Regions from separate parts of the Homo sapiens genome. Here all the other regions are linked to region 3. The links come from fine-mapping of genetic effects on plasma protein levels. A gene starts in region 3. Each other region holds a variant in brackets. All regions are shown on one strand. Distances are from middle to middle.

Evidence for each region. PIP is the chance, under the fine-mapping model, that this variant and not a neighbour inherited with it causes the effect. Protein levels are from antibody-based Olink assays in UK Biobank. Linkage for the fine-mapping came from a reference panel and not from the study's own genotypes, which makes the PIPs less certain.
Region 1: its variant is fine-mapped to the plasma level of the LMOD1 protein (UK Biobank, PIP 0.94).
Region 2: its variant is fine-mapped to the plasma level of the LMOD1 protein (UK Biobank, PIP above 0.99).
Region 4: its variant is fine-mapped to the plasma level of the LMOD1 protein (UK Biobank, PIP 0.92).

Annotation. Positions count from the first base shown.
Region 1 is chr1:201,925,362-201,928,044 of GRCh38, reverse strand. All of the region lies in intron 1 of LMOD1 (leiomodin 1), which reads left to right. Among named protein-coding and RNA genes, the nearest start is that of LMOD1, 20 kb to the left of the region's middle. The variant A/G (reference allele first, on the strand shown) is at 1,509.
Region 2 is chr1:201,916,630-201,919,312 of GRCh38, reverse strand. All of the region lies in intron 1 of LMOD1 (leiomodin 1), which reads left to right. Among named protein-coding and RNA genes, the nearest start is that of LMOD1, 29 kb to the left of the region's middle. The variant TA/A (reference allele first, on the strand shown) is at 1,671.
Region 3 is chr1:201,945,359-201,948,041 of GRCh38, reverse strand. LMOD1 (leiomodin 1) reads left to right here and starts at 1,494. Exons shown (of 3, transcript NM_012134.3): 1 at 1,494-1,962. The coding sequence starts at 1,702.
Region 4 is chr1:201,896,460-201,899,142 of GRCh38, reverse strand. It overlaps LMOD1 (leiomodin 1), which reads left to right. Exons shown (of 3, transcript NM_012134.3): 3 at 745-2,683. The coding sequence ends at 771. Among named protein-coding and RNA genes, the nearest start is that of SHISA4, 8.9 kb to the right of the region's middle. The variant G/A (reference allele first, on the strand shown) is at 1,295.

The DNA of each region.
Region 1 (2,683 bases), 20 kb after region 3:
GTTGAAATTGTCCTTTTATAACAAACCCACTTCCATGATAATGGCATTAATCCATTCATGAGAGCAGTGCCCCCATGACCCAAACCCTTTCCATTAGGCCCCAGCTCCCAACATCACTGCACTGGGGATTGAGTTTCCAATGTATGAACTTTGGAGGACACATTCCAAACACAGCACTCCCAAAGATTCTAGCTGGTCCCATTCTGAATTCATAGGGAAGAAATTAACTCTATATAATGGATGCCTTAGGGCAGTAAGGGCTTAAATTGTCTTCTGAAATTCCAGTTGTCAAGGGCTGACATTGCGCCATTTTGCTTACACTGAGTTTCCTCAAGGTGGATCATCTCACCTACCCCAATGGCAGCATCTCTTCCACTTGCTACTTAGTGATAACCCACTTGTCCCATGTCCTCAACTTCACTGAAAAGTATAACAAATTCTTCTTTTTTTTTTTTTGTTTTTTTTGTTTGTTTGTTTTTTGAGATGGAGTCTAGCCCTGTCACCAGGCTGGAGTGCAGTGGCGTGATCTTGGCTCACTGCAACCTCTGCCTTCTGGGTTCAAGCGATTCTCCTGCCTCAGCCTCCTGAGTAGCTGGGATTACAGGCACACGCCACCACACCCGGCTAATTTTTGTATTTTTAGTAGAGATGGGGTTACACCATGTTGGCCAGGATGGTCTCAATCTCCTGACCTCGTGATCCTCCCACCTCGGCCTCCCAAAGTGCCGGGATTACAGGCGTGAGCCAAGTATAATAATTTTTAAATCACCAAGAAAATATCTAATAATGATCCCAGAGTACTAAAGACTCAAGTGTTCCAGTGGTCAAAGTTCTTTCAGGTTGGGAGGCTTTTGGTTTTACTTCCAGTCTCTGTAATCTTTGCCTTAAAAGCAGGAGAAGGGGGTGATACAAAGAACACAGACATGATATTTCTAAATTTGTTTTATTTGAAGAAAAGTATGCTTATAATGTAATAAGGCTCATCATAGACAGTATGCAAAACGTGGGAAAAAAAGGAAAATAGCCAATAATTCTTTGTCTTAGCTAAAGATATCAGCCATTGTCAATTTTCTTGTTTGTTTGTTTTTGAGACAAGGTCTTGCTCTGTTGCCCAGGCTGGGGTGCAGTGGTGCAATCTCAGCTTACTGCTCCCACGTGCCACCACTCCCAGCTAATTTTTTTGTATTTTTTGTAGAGACAGGGATTTGCCATGATGTCCAGGCTAGTCTCAAACTCCTGGACTCAAGCAATCCTCCCTCCTCAGCCTCCCAAAGTGCTGGGATTACAGTTGTGAGCTACGGCTCCCTGCTTCAGTTTTTTCTGAGTGTATAATTCTGTATGTATTTTTCTTTTTGTAGTTGAGATCATTTAATGCACAGCCACATATTCACATAAATTGTGTTCCCTACCTTATTTATTTATATTTTTGCTTATCATATTATAATTGCTTTTCCCATGTCACTAAAATTCTTCCTAAACATTGTTTTCAGTGGATGTCATCATAGTCT[A/G]TTGTATGGCTGTGTTGAACCATTTGCCTATATTTGGACATTTACATGGCTCCCAATAAATACACTTTCCAAGGCCCTAAACAGATCCCCAGAGCCTCAGCACGGGCTCCTTCTCTTGGCCTTTGGCGCCCATCCCCAGAGAGATGGAGTCAGCCAAACAAGATGATAAACAGAACAGTTAACACACTGCTTCCCCAGCTGAGCCTTATGGGCTGATGGGTGAAACAAAGCCCCTAAAAGAGAAAAAAGACTCACTGGGCACTGGAAACGCAGAGACTTATGGTCAGCTCACAGCACAGACACTCCATAGCCCAGAGAAACATAAGGCCACACATGTTATTCTTTTAGAGGATCAAGTTCCTAATATTGGACCATCTGCCAAGCAGAGCAAAGCCCCACCTCCCTCTCGCTTTGACTCCCTGTGGGGAAATGTGTCGGTTTGTATGCAGTATAGATAGAGCACATATGCCTGGTTTTTCTTCCTTTGGGGAGGAAAAAAATGTTACTACCTAAAAAGAAAACTGGCTGGGTGTGGTGGCTCACACTTGTAATTCCAACACTTTGGGAGGCTGAGATGGGAGGCCTGCTTGAGCCCAGGAGTTCGAGACCAGCCTGGGCAACACAGGGAGACCCCGCCCCCCAGTCTCTCCAAAAGAATTTAAAAATTAGCCAGGAATGGTGGTGCACGCCTGTGGTTCCAGCTACTTGGGAAACTGAGGTGGGAGGATCACTTGAGCCTGGGAGGTTGAGGCTGCAGTTAGCCATGATCACACCACTGCACTCCAGCCTGGGCACAAAGGAAGACCCTGTCTCAAAAAAATTTAAAAAATTAAAAATAGAAAAGAGAAAGAGATTGAAAAAAAAAAAAACAAGCCTCCAGCCTTGAAAAATTTCAGGTCTTGGGTGGATGTCAAGAAGAGAAGGTCAACTGGTTCATCCTCCTGCTTCTACAGGGCCCTACCCTAAAAACATTCCACACCAATACCAAACCATAACCAAATGGTCATGCAAAGTAATTTTCCCCTTCCAAGAAAAATGGAAAGTGTCTTACTCCCAGAAGCTTGTAGGTAAGTACTTAGTTGCTGTCTTAGAACATCACACAATATGCCCCAGCTCATCCATGCGCAATAAAAGCAGAACCTAATGCCTTGGGTCTGAAGATTTATGGGCTTCCA
Region 2 (2,683 bases), 29 kb after region 3:
AAATTGCTTGAACCCAGGAGGCGGAGGTTGCAGTGAGTACCACTGCACTCCAGCCTGGGTGAAGGACTGAGGCTCTGACCCCCCAAAAAAAAAAAAGTTTCTGTCTTTTAGAGATACACACTGAGGCCAGGCATGGTGGCTCACACCTGTAATCCCAGCAAAAGTGAGGCCAAGGCGGGAGGATTGCTTGAGGCCAGGAGTTTGAGACCAGCCTGAGCAACATAGCAAGACCCCAGATCTACAAAAATAAAAGTTAGCCAGGCATGGTGGCACATGCCTGTAGTCCTAGATACTCGGAAAGCTGAGGCAGGAGGATCACTTGAGCCCAGGAGTTTGAGGTTATAGTGAGCTATGATCATACCACTACACTCCAGCCTGGGTGACAGAGTGAGACCCTGTCCCTAAAAAAGAAATAGAGTACACACTGAAATATGTATGCATGAAATGATACACCTGGAATTTGCTTTCAAATAATGTGAGATTGTGACAAAAATGGGTGGGCATCAGATGAAACAAGATTGGCCATATGTAGAGAATCGCTGAAGCTGGGCAATGGGTACCTTGAGGTTCATTGTGCTGTTCTCTCTAGTTTGTTGTACAGTCGAACTTTTCCACATATAAAGTTAAAAAGAAGGAGGAGGAACAAAAGAAGAAGTGTTAGCCAGGCAGAGAAGAAAGCGAGAGGACATCCTGTGTGGCAGGAGCAGCATGCATAGGCAACAAGACCCAAGAGAGCCCAGCATGGGGTAGGGCAGCAAGACCCAAGAGAGCCCAGCGTGGCTGTTCCTCACTGTAACCAGAGTGCAGGCAGGAAGGGGAGGGCGCACAGAGGCAGGCACAGGCCAGGTCACGGAGGGCTTTGTTGCCATGCTACAAAGTCTGCACTTCATCCTGAAAGCATGGGAGCCATGGATCAGAATCACATTTTGAAAGGTCTTTCTGGAGACAGAGTGCACTCAAAGAGAAGGAAGACAGGAGGCAGGGGGTTCAGTGGGGAGGCAAGAGATGATGGAGGCCGCAAACACAGCAATGGTGAGGGGATGTGAGGAAGCTAATCTCAGCTATGTTAGGAAGGTGGGATGAAGGGAACGTGGTGAGGGAAAAAGGAAGCGTCAAGGCTGATGTCCCAGTGTCTGTGGGGTGGGAGAGCCATTCCTGAAGAGGGAGAAGGCGGGAAGACAGAGAGCTGCACCATCCCTGATCCCTGGCCTCTTAGGCCTAGGACTGGCTACAGAATTTGCAGGGCTTAGCGCAAAATGAAAATGTGCTCAAGAATTACTAAAACTTTCAAGACGATGACAGCAGAGAATTAAACCAAGCGTAGGGCCCTCTGAGCATGGGGCCCTGGAGCACTGCAGAGGTCAGACACCATAAAGCTGCTCCTGCTTTAGCCAATGTACCCTTTTCTGTTTAGAAGGAACAGGAGAGGGGCTGTATGAAAGCCAGGCCTCCTGCTCACAGCCCCAGGCAGTAAAAGAACAGTATGTTCCTTCTGCCACCCTCCGGGACCTAAGTGGGACCCAGAAGCCTGGGACAAATAGCTTGCATTTGTGTAGATCTTTACAACATTTCCCAGACTTGCTTGGGTTTTCCTTGGTGCTGGGATAAAATGAAGAAGCAGAAAGTACTAGCCAGGCACTTCAGAGAGCAGAGTGCTACAGTGACTTGTT[TA/A]TCTCCCCAAAGAGATTTCCCGGTTTCTCCAAAAATGGGGTTTGCTACAAGCTTCCCAGTATGAGTCACCAGACCAGTTGGCAAAGCATTTAGTTCTGCTGAGAGCAATGGAGTTGACCCTTCATTGGCCGAGAAGATCTGCCACAAGAACCTTCATCCCCCTAGTGATGGGTTCTGCATAACCCCCAGGCAGAAGCCAGAATGGCGCTGACTGTGAAGTCTTAGCTATTGCAGGCTGTGTTGCATGCCCTCACCTCAAAACGCCTCTGTCTTTCTCTACTTGCAGTGAATGCAGAAGCCTTGGTGGTAGGGGTAAGGGCCTAGGTGAAACACAGACACCGCTCACCGTGCCTTCCTTTCTGGTGCCTCTTGATGGCTCTTGGCAGGCTTTTGAGGTCAGGCCACCTTCCCCCATTTACCATCCCTTTCACTAGAAACCCTGGTCCTTAAAGACTCAAGGCAGGCAAGAACCCTCCCAGCCTTGGCAGAGTTTGGTGACACATGCAGTGTAAGTGCCCAGCCACCCACATCTGCACATTATCCTTGTCTTTTCCAGAAGGTTTCTTTGCTCCCCTTCCCTACAAAGACAGAGCAGGCCCTGAGATGGTGGCGTTCACTCCTCTTGTAAAGCCTGGTCTCCCGCAGGACTGCATCAGAAAATGCCCTTTTTTTCCCAGGTTCACAAACCGCTGCCCTTTTCTTGGCTGCCATTGCGCCACTCCGACCCCTGGAGATCATCTTGGGAGGTAAAAATGAATCATGGCGTTTCTGTTTATGCTGGAGCTGGAGGCAGTGCCTGAGACCCTTTGGCCCTCTGCTCAGCACTGATGTTTATCACCGGGGCTGATGTGTAATTGCTGGAACAGAGCCAGGCGAAGGTCAGGCTGCGAGGCAGGTCCTGGGCACAGCACAGCCGGGCTGAAGACTGAGCACAGTGACGGGGAATCCCCTCCCTCCCACCTCTGGCCCCATCCATCCCTCCTCCCCACACCACGGCCTGATGCCTCTTGGT
Region 3 (2,683 bases):
TATCTTTAGTGATATCTCTTGCTCTTAGAACAATGCCTGATATATAATAGGCACTTGATAAATCACTCAATAAATATATACCTACGGTTTGACCAATAAGTTGGCTACTGACTCTTAAAATGACAACCCCCAGGTTTCCCTAAAGTCTTCTTCCACTCTTCCTATCAAGTCTGCCTGCCTTCCTTCTGCCCTTCAGTCCCCCCAGTGGACACCATTCCCCTCTTCAGCCTTAACCTAAAGTTGGACTAGTGGACATTAAATGGCACGGCCAAGTTTTAGTCCCAGACGATCCCTGGACTCAGCAAATGCTGATCAAGTGACTGTCTCTCTCTGGCTTAGGATGGAAAGATGCCAGGAAAGATCGAAGCATCTACCCTGATGGGTTACACCAGGGCTTCTAGAAGGGATTTTGTGGCAGGAGGAAGGGGGGCAGGGGATTGAATGTCTCTGTGACTTGTGCAGGGCAGCATGATGGATGAGCAGTGGAAAGCCCTTCTATGAAACATGCCAGACCTGTTGCAATCGTATCTCTCCCGACGGCCCAGAATTCTGTTTCCCTGAAGACATACTAAATCGTGCTCTGGATTTATATGTGGGTGGTGACCTGCCTCTGTGCTCCCAAAGGAGGTCTGTCTACAGATGCCCGGCAGAGGAAGAAACAGATGACAACAGGGGGAGGTTTGAACCCTCTTCCCAAGAGCCTTGGAACTTCATGGAAAGTGACAGCCCTTTAAGAGTTTCCCGACTTCTGCAGATCCTTCTCTCTTTCCCAAACAGCCTGCCAGTTTTCAGTTTTGGTACACAGTAAGGATTTATTCTCTCTCTCTCTCTCTCTCTCTCTCTCTCTCTCTCTCTCTCTCCCTCTCCTGCCTAGCTATCTCTATCTCTAAGTTTGTCTTTCTGTCTCCTGTCTCTCTCTTAAGAAGTGGCCAAAGGATCCTGGAGCCTCTGATGCTCAGCCTTCAGGTCCTCCTTGGCAGAACCTGGGTAGAAAGAAAATGGGTAGGCAGGGGGTTAGGAGTAACAGCTCCTCATCTTGAATCTAGACTTTCCTGGAGCTGTATACACCTGGGAGCCCCCCAGCACATTACCAAATACTGTAGAAGGAAGTCCATGAACCACACATTGACCACAGTGATACGTCCACCCGGTGATGGAGTAGTAAAATACGCTCTTGAACGTGCCCCGGGCTGGCGAGTTCACCGGCCCTCATGGCCTCGTCCCTGCTTGTCTGGCTCTCCGTGGCTGTGATCTGCTTCTGCCAGCCTACGCATTTTTGTATCTTTTTCTCATTGCGTGGCCCCTTGTCTTTAAAAGGCTAAACTGCTCTGTACTAAATTTGGTCACGCAGCGCTCCAAGATTCCCTGGAATGTCCTCAAGTTTCAAACAGCTCTGACAGCGAGGTAGGCCCGCCCCCAGCTTGGGGATTGGCTTCTCCTCTCCGGGCCTGGCAGTTGTCGGGTCTTATTGGCCGCTGATTAGACCAGCCGGGGTCCACTAGCCCTGGGCTTCAGGGAGGCTGCTGCGTCCAGTGAACACTTCAGCACCTGTAGCACAGAAGGGCCAAGGAGCTGCAGTCCTCGACCAGCAGGAGGTTTGCTCCTCAGCCCACTCGCTGCATCCAGATCAGCTCACCCCTCTCCCTTCCCTGCCCACCAGGACTCTGATAGCCCCTGGCAGCCACAGCCCATTTTGCCAAGATGTCTAGAGTAGCCAAATATCGCCGGCAGGTGAGTGAAGACCCCGACATCGACAGCCTGCTGGAGACCCTGTCTCCCGAGGAGATGGAGGAGCTGGAGAAGGAGCTGGACGTGGTGGACCCAGACGGGAGTGTTCCCGTGGGGCTGCGGCAGAGAAACCAGACGGAGAAACAGTCCACGGGTGTGTACAACCGGGAGGCCATGCTCAACTTCTGTGAAAAGGAGACCAAGAAACTTATGCAGAGGGAGATGTCCATGGATGTGAGTGAGCACAGCCCTGGAGGGGAGGAGGGAGACAGGGGAGGGCTGGAGACCCTGGCTTCATGATTAGGATGCTTCCTTCCTTAGAAGAAACGTTCTTGTTGGCAAAGGATTTTAATGCTTCAGAACTGATGATTATCCACTGAACTAGCGGTGCGAATCTCTTACTCCTAATTTCTGTTTTATAAGCAGAAGTCGGATATGTTGGAGGAACACAACATCCCACAAAATCAAATAGAGCTACTAGTAGAATGGGAGCTGGAAGGTGTCCTTGAAGAGTCCATTGTCAAGTTGACTCCATCCTGGTCCCACAATACCTTTGTTTTTCTCCACACTCATTCCATCCTATTGTGAGGAGGGGTAAAAAGAGAGAGTGATACTTTATGTCTCCTGTCAGCCACCCAAAAAGACAAAGCTAAGCCATTTTTTGTGGGAGAATAACTCATTTTCAAGTCCCCAACCCTATGGGCATCTCACGGCACATGGATCATTTCAGGAGGCTTGGGGGTAAATGAGTTTCCCAAAGCAAAGGGAGACAGGGACCAGGAGTCTATGGGCTGGGAAATGTGGCTTAAAGACCTGATAAGCTTCAAATTTATTCCCAGGGAAGATGTTTTTTGTTGTGGTTAGTTGGTTTTTGGTTTTGTTTTGTTTTTGCACTCTCCAGAGGAGCCTCTGGAGGGAGCATGCCCTCTTTTTGGTAATTAACCCTTTAGCAGCT
Region 4 (2,683 bases), 49 kb after region 3:
ATGTCGGCTGCAGATGATATAGACTCCCAGGGCCCATAGGGGACTTCAGGTCATCTCATGCATCCTCCTGCCTGCAGGCAGGTCACACCTGTATATCCCCTAGAGCTGAGACTCTACCCTTCCTTTAAGGAGCTTCCTTTAATACCTCACTCCATGCTTCTCTTTCATTCTGCAATGAAGCCTGTTTCTCCTTAAAATGGAGAAATGGCCTCTACAGAGTAGTTTTGCCTCGGGTCCTTCCTTTAAGTCTTCTCCATTTCCCCAAACAAAAATGATCCACGTTTTACTTAGCCTCCTCTCAGGACCAGCCAAGTCCTACAGGTCAGTCCATCCGAAAGGTCTCTGGGAGATTCACCTCTCAGGAGAGTCTACCTTTGCCTAGCCAGTGCCATGGACACAGGAGCCATCCCTGGACACCCTACTTCTCCAAGCCCTGCCTCCCCTGGAAGTCTGGCCTGGGTGACAAAGTCCACGATCGTTTGTCCATTTGGTTGGATACCCAACCCCCACAACATCATCTGGGACAAGGTATCATGAGATAAAGGAAAATCTCAATTGTAATTCCAGTGGTCACTCAATGACATCCAATTTTTACAGACAATGAAAAATGCTCCCTCAGTGTCAACACCTCATTCACATTCCACAGACATAACATATTGCAGTGTCTTGTGTGTCCTTCCAGTAGGGAGGGAGGTGAGGTGGCTGAGCTCCCTTCTCTAACCTGTCTCTACTTTGCCCCTACAGGTGGAAGTGCCCAAACTGCTTCAGTAGGACCAGGCTGCCAGGCACCATCTGCCAATGCCATGACTGCTCAGGCCTCACCTCCCAGGGCTACACAGACCCTGCCCACCCCATCCCTGGCTGACCTGCTGTGGATGTCCCTATTCTGCCATGGGAGAGTCCAGGCCTGGGTCACGCTCAAGGAAGGATGCCTTATCTCTTCTCACTTTCCTTTTCTTGTCTCTGAGGCTCTCCAAATTTTGCTTTAGTACATGGAGCTCAGGTTTCTGGACAAGAAGAGTCCTTTTAGCACATCACTGAGAAGATGGCACTGTCCAGGGCCCATGTAGCTGGCAAGCTGCAAAAGGCCTGTGATCCAGGAAAGATGTCCCACAGGGACCACATCCACCCCAGCCCCACTGCCCTCCAGGGCCAGGATTCAGGCCTCTGAGGAGCCCACGGGGCAAAGCTGCTGGGCCAGTGGCACTCTGTGTGGGAAAATGGCAGAAAGATGGAGAGGCATGGGGGCCCAAAGGGGAGCGTGGGGAGGGGCTGAGGATACCCCAAAGTCCAG[G/A]CTAATTAGAGGATGTGGCAGGGGCAGTGGCCTGGATGCACAGTGCCTGATGGGAGTAGGCTCCAGACAGGAGGAGTGGGACAGACAGCAGCTGGACTTGAAGGTTTGATGCCAAAGCAGACATTTTCCTCACACCCACCTGCTGCTGTATGAATAGCTGTGTATCTGTTTTTCCATAAGATTTTGATAATATATACAAACCTTTAGCTGTGAATGGCTGTGCCCCACCTGTTGTCCTGAACTGTGAGTCCTGATCCTAACCCTGGGCTCCCTGGAGGACTCTAGAAGCTCAGGTTCCCTGCCACACTATTTGAGTTGGCCAAGAAATAAATTCACATCCTCAGAAAGTGCAGCATGGAGGAAAATCTGAACTCTAAGCAGAAGACTCTCCACTGACCTGGTTGTCCAGGTCTAGAAGGCCAGGCCTCTACTAGGTCTGCTCCTGAACCAGTCCTGCTGCCTGGAGTCAGTAGCCAGAGTTGTTCTCAGGGGTGCTGGGGCAGAGTGGAGCCCAGGGTGCTGGGATGGCTATATTAGGCATGTTCAGGGATGCTCATTCCATGACTCTGCCTAACCATGGGCTCAGGGCCAGGTCCTCACAGCAGTCACAGGCCCAGGAAGGCGGCAGGCAGAGAAGTGGAGTGACTATTTGGAGAATAGCACCCATATCTGTGTGCCCTAGGGCTCAGAGGGGCCTCATCTTCCCCAGCCCTCCCCACCTGCTCACCAATTCCACTTCCTGCCCCAACTGCAGGAATGCTGACAATGCTGCCATGCCCACCATCGGGTGTAGGTGAAAGGCATCTTTCTGAATTTCATTCTCTTGAAGGTGCTGCCACCCCTTGGCACTGTGGAACTGCCACCTTGGGTCTGTGTCACTTGTAGGTTTCTCTGCCTCCAGGTTGCCTCAACAGCAGGAGGCACAGCAGTTTCACCATCTTTGAGGTGAGGGTGGGGTGCCCCAGCTAGGAAGCAAGATCGCTGTGCTAGGTCTGACCAAAACCAGAGGGCAGTCTAGTCCTGGGGGTAAAGCCCTCAGATCCCAGGGTACACTCTTCTCCATTCCCTCCACCCACTTGCCTGTCACCCCAGTCACCTAAGCAATCACTGGGCCCAGAGGAGAGGAGACAGACACACACTGGCTCCTGGACCTAAAGGGTATGAGCTGGAGCTAAGGCCAGCTAGAGCTTCCACTGTCAGCCCTCACTGTCAGTCCCACTGCACCCCCCTGTGCCTGCTGGGCACTGGGCACTAGCTAGATGCTTTAGGTTGCTTCAGCTGATCCTTCAACTCTGTGAGGTGGATACCAATATTCTATTTTGCAGATAGAATTTGGCCCAGAGAGGTTAACTAATATATCCATGATCACACAGCTAATAAAAGTCAGAG